Linked DNA regions of Homo sapiens. The protein of the gene in region 1 purifies or fractionates together with the protein of each later gene. This does not show direct contact. Each region holds a gene or a part of one and is shown on either strand. Other genes may lie near its edges.

Region 1 (2,684 bases):
TCCCGAGGTCACCATGGGCTCACTCCATCCCCTTTCGCTTCCTGTTGGCAGGTGATAAGGAACAATATGGACTTCTTGCAGCTCCTGGAGGCAGACGCTGGAGGGCTGGGCTCCGCCTCAGTCACAGGCAATGCCCTGATCCCACAAAGCCCCGGAGATGCTGTGGACCAACTTGCAACACAAGACCCTAGGAGGGAGGACGGCTGTTGTCATCTGTTGACCACAAACACGTTTACTGTGCACACTTGTGCACATGGGTGAGCTCCGTGAGTCCAGACATGCACAGGGCAGGTGAATGCATGGAGTACCATGGGCATTATCCCAGGCCCACAGGCACGTGCAATCACACACACACGTGGACATGCCACTGCGCACCTAAGACACACACACACACACACATGCATATGCACACACACACATATGCACACACACACACAGACACTGTAAACATCAGGCTCAAAGGCCCATCCAGGAGACCAAAGGCTGCAGGTGTCTTCACATCACAGCCCAGGTGACCTTGTCTCTGGCTCAGGGCCCAGTGGCCTGGCCAGCTCTGGACATCCAGTCAGCCTCATTAGCTGGCCTGGGGTCCAGGGCTCGAAAGTGGCGGAGGAATGACCACCCACTGGCGGAGGTAGCTCCGGGGGGGTCCTTCGTCCCCGGGGCTGGTGAAGTCACACTCCACAGGGCTGCTGCAGTCAGAGCCCACAAAGCCACTGTCAAACGTGTCCATATCCAGGCCGGCCAGGGGTGAGCCCGCCTCACTCTCTGAGACCCCTCCAGGTGACCGGCCACCCCAGGGCAGTCCCCCAGCCCAGTCCTCCCCATCTGCAAGGGGTGGCTTTAGTCTGTCCAGGAGGCTTCCCAGGGGCCCTCCTAGCCCAGGGCTGCCAGCTGAGACACAGCCACAGGACAGGACTGTGGTCCCTGCATCCAAGAGTGGGTCCTCTAGGCCTGGGCTGGGCTCCAGGCCAGCATCCAGGTCCAGGGCTGGGTAGCCGTCATCCTCACAGCTGCAGGGCCAGGTGCATGGCCCCTCTGCATCTAGCACAGTCACTGTGTCAATGGACACCAGGCCGTATGGCCGATCCCTCTCCTCACTGTAAGCTGAGCCCCCCGAGTTCTGGGCTGTCGGCCAGAAGCTGGGCTTGGGCACACCGTCAGACTCCACCAGCTCTGCTGGTTCTTGTAGCTCCGTGAGCTGCAGCCTCTTGGCCGGGCTCCGTGGTGGGTGGCAGCTGTACACCTCCAGGGTGGAGGGCACCTCTGGGCTCCAGGGTCCCAGCTCCAGGCTGGAGCCAGTGAAGGGTGCACCCACCCATTTCTGTGAGAGAGAAAAAGAGAGAGTCATAGCACAGGATGAGGGTAAGGTGAGGGTTTATTTTTCTTTTACTTTTATTCTTTTGAGACAGTCTGGCTCTGCTGCCCAGGCTGGAATGCAGTGGTGCCATCTCGGTTCACTGCAACCTCTGCCTCCCAGGATCAAGTGATTCTCCTGCCTCAGCCTCCCAAGTAGCTGGGACTACAGGCGCCTGTCACCACACCCGGCTAATTTTTGTATTTTTAGTAGAGACGTGGTTTCACCATGTTGGCCAGACTGATCTTGAACTCCTGACGTCAGGTGATCCACCCGCCTCAGCCTCCCAAAGTGTTGGGATTACAGGCGTGAGTCACTGTGCCCAGCCAAGGTGAGGGTTTAAACAGACAGAAAGACAGACACAGACACAGAGACAAGACAAAGAGACATCAAGAGAGACAGACAGAGACATGAAGATAGACAAAGACACCGAGAGACAGAGAGAGAGAGAGGAATCAGGACCACAATGTGCTCCCACCCTAGTGGATCCCCCTCCTACTCTGGGCCTCAGTTTCCCTACTTGTAGAAGGGAGTTGCTACCCTTAGTAGTGTGACCAGTCAGACAACTGGTGGCCCCATAGTCCAGGCAGGGACCAAGATTCCTGAGTCAAGGAGACATGGGGGCAGGAGGGCCTGAGGTCTGAGGTACCCCTGAGCCATCTCCTGCTTTCCCGCCTCCTTGATGCTTCTTGAAACCTAGCACTCTCCTGGTTTATGTGTCCCCACCAGACAGACACTTGGCCCCCGGACATAAGTCTTGTCTCTTCTGTCCATGGCTGTAGCCCCAGTGCCTAGCACAAAGTAGGTGCTCAATAAATGTTTATTAACGAAATGAATGGGTGGAGTGGATCAATGAAAAGCCACTTGGAAAGGCCTTTGTACACTTTGAGGATAAAGGATGTGGGTGATGCTGGCTGAGGCGGTGGCCCTTAAACTTGAAGGACCCTCCCCTTCCCTCCCCTGCCAGGACTCCCACTCACGACACCAGAATCCTCATGCAATTGGCAAGGAAAATCCCCAGGAATGGGTATCTCCCTGTTTTGAGCTCATCTTCCTCAAAAACTCATCTCAGAACTGTGATGTGGCCACCACCACTGATTCAAAGTCGCTTCTCAGCTGTGTGCCCTTAAGCCAATTACTTACCCTCTCGGTGCCTCAGTTTCCTCATCTGTAAAATGGACCTAATAATAGCACCCACCCGTAGGGCCGTCGTGAGGATTAAATGAGTCACTGTTTGTGATGCTCCTAGGGGACTGCCTGGTATATAGCAAGTGCTATATGAGTATTGGTAAAAATCAACCCAAAATCAATGTGATATTTGAGCTTT
Region 2 (2,496 bases), on another chromosome or scaffold:
GTGGTCTTTTAGCCCTAAATGGTTTCCCATATATTATGCATCATCTCAATTTTATTCTCCCTTGTGAACTTGGCCCATTAGGTGGCATGACTTACAGATCTTTAATTACATTTAGGTTAAATATTCAGAGAAAATGGGACACCGTTATTAGCAAAATCGATCATTTGAGTTTTATATAATCTTGAATTGCCTTAAAGCTTTCCTCATAGGCAAGAAAATTCTAGATGGTTTCTTTCCTTAAAAAGCTCCATGGTATACTCAGCAGAAAGCACCACCCATCTGTTCAGCTAACAAATACATACCCTGTGGCAATGACTCCACCATGTGGAAAAAATGTGCAGCAAAGCCCATTGGTCATAGGAGCAAATGCAATGGGAGTTTTCAGTTCCAGGGCCCAGATCCTGAGGAGTCTGGATGGGGAGAGAGAACATCTGGATATTAGCTGACCCAGGGCCAGACCAAGAGGGCCTTGCTGCCATTACTTGCAAGCACTTGTTCTGAGGCCATGTAAAGAGAGTTCTCTTCGTTACCTGTCATCTGCCACCGTGGCAAGGTACAAGCCTTCTGGAGAGAAGCACACAGATCTCAGTGAGCTAATGTGGACGTCACTGTCATCCATGGCGGGGTCAACCTGGGTGTGGCTGGGAAGGAAAGAAACAGGATGGCAGGCCTGGAGTGATGGCTGCTCTCCACCCTCCATCATCACCCTAGGCAGGAAGCCAAACTGCCCTGGCTACAAAAGGGCTCAAGATGCATTGTGTGCCCCTCGTGGAAAAGCTTGGGATTTGCACACTGGGAAAAAAAAGGGTATCTCAGAAGGCTCCAGGTGTCCTGTGGATGAAGGGTTACTAACACTTCCTTGTGCTAATTTGCTTATGCAAAGTAGGTCAGCCCTCACTTTAATGCCACAGTAGAAACTGCAAGTCTTTTTTAGGCTAAGATACATGATAATTATAGGACTGCCTATTATTTGCTTCATAAAACAACAGACACAAAAGGAAAAAGGAGACCAAGTTTGTGAGAACATGAAACTCATTTTGGAAAGCACAGTTTCGATAAGAGGCTCTTTCTGAACTTGTTACTACAGTTATTAGTAAATGGAAATAAAGAGTCATATTGAGGCTTCATAATGCTGATTCCGAAGAAGTACACACAGCCACCTGAATCAGGAGACTGGAAGACACTCAAAGCTACTTGAGAGGGCTTAATTGACAAGGCATCACTAAGAAGCAATGAACCAGGCCAGGCGCAGTGGCTCATGCCTATAATAGCAGTTTGGGAGACTGAGGCGGTGGATCACCTGAGGTCAGGAGTTTGAGACTAGCCTGGCCAACATGGTGAAACCCCATCTCTAATAAAAATACAAAAATTAGCCAGGCCTGGTGGCGCACGCTTGTAGTCCTAGCTACTCGGGAGGCTCAGGCAGCAGAATCGCTTGAACCCGGGAGGTGGAGGTTGCAGTGATCCAAGATTGCGCCACTGCACTCCAGCCTGGGTGACAGAGCGAGACTCCGTCTCAAAAGAGACCCACTGTGCCTTTTTATCCAGCTTGTCCCCTCCCATGTCCCAGATTCTAAAAGAGACATGTCTAATCCCAGGCAGGTTCCTCATCAGTCCCCCCACAAAAAAGTCATAGCAGGGATTCAGTCCTTACTGGAGTGACCTCAGCCTTTCGCCGGTGTAGGGGTCCCACATAATCACATTGGTATCGTAAGAAGCCGTGACAAGCAGGGCAGAGTCGGGGGAGAAGTCACAAGAGACAACACTGCTTTGATGGCCCTCTAGCTTCCGAATTAACGTGTAGGACCTCATGCTCCATAGAAAGACCTGTGGAAAGTAAGAAGTGCCTGGTTAGGGCAGAAGCAAAGTGCTTAGGACTCAAACGGAGGGAGGGAAAGGTACCACCACCAAATCTGCAGGCCCTGCAGCCAGGGCTGATTCTCTATCCCTTTTCTACAGCTCTTCCAGAACGTGTGGTGTAGGTTTAAATAAGGCAACTGGTCTGGATTCTTGAGGATTTAAAACAATGGGCATGCTCAAGGAGCTCACTATAAGAGAGAATAAACCAGATCAGCCTTAGGAAGACCCCTGCTGAAACGCATGTGCAGAGACTTCTGAGTCTGCTTCTGAGTCCTGTTTGCCAATAGGGTAGTCGTATGTGCTGATGAAGACCTGAGCCAAGTGCTATCTTATTCCACTTAAAAATAAATGTCAGCGGCCAGGCACGATGGCTCATGCCTGTAATCTCAGCACTTTGGGTGGCTGAGGTGGGTGGATCACATGAGGCCAGGAGTTCAAGACCAGCTTGGTCAACATGGCAAAACCCCATCTCTACTGAAAATACAAAAATTAGCCAGGCATGGTGGTGCACGCCTGTAAGCCCAGCTATTTGGGAGGTTGAGGCAGAAGAATCACTTGAGCCTGGTAGGTGGAGGTTGCAGTGACCTGAGATCACGTCACTGCACTCCAGCTTGGGCGAAAGAGTAAGACTGTCTC

What was found.
Region 2: the proteins of IL21R (region 1) and WSB2 purify together in Homo sapiens (affinity purification with western blotting; one study listed by BioGRID). This does not show direct contact.

Annotation. Positions count from the first base shown.
Region 1 is NC_000016.10:27,447,174-27,449,857, reverse strand, and holds part of IL21R (interleukin-21 receptor isoform 1 precursor), read right to left. Parts: intron 2,190-2,684; exon of another isoform or gene 1,325-2,189; coding exon 575-1,324; 3' UTR 1-574. UniProt on the Homo sapiens protein: This is a receptor for interleukin-21.
Region 2 is NC_000012.12:118,034,684-118,037,179, forward strand, and holds part of WSB2 (WD repeat and SOCS box-containing protein 2), read right to left. Parts: intron 1,828-2,496; coding exon 1,655-1,827; intron 642-1,654; coding exon 531-641; intron 411-530; coding exon 303-410; intron 1-302. UniProt on the Homo sapiens protein: May be a substrate-recognition component of a SCF-like ECS (Elongin-Cullin-SOCS-box protein) E3 ubiquitin ligase complex which mediates the ubiquitination and subsequent proteasomal degradation of target proteins.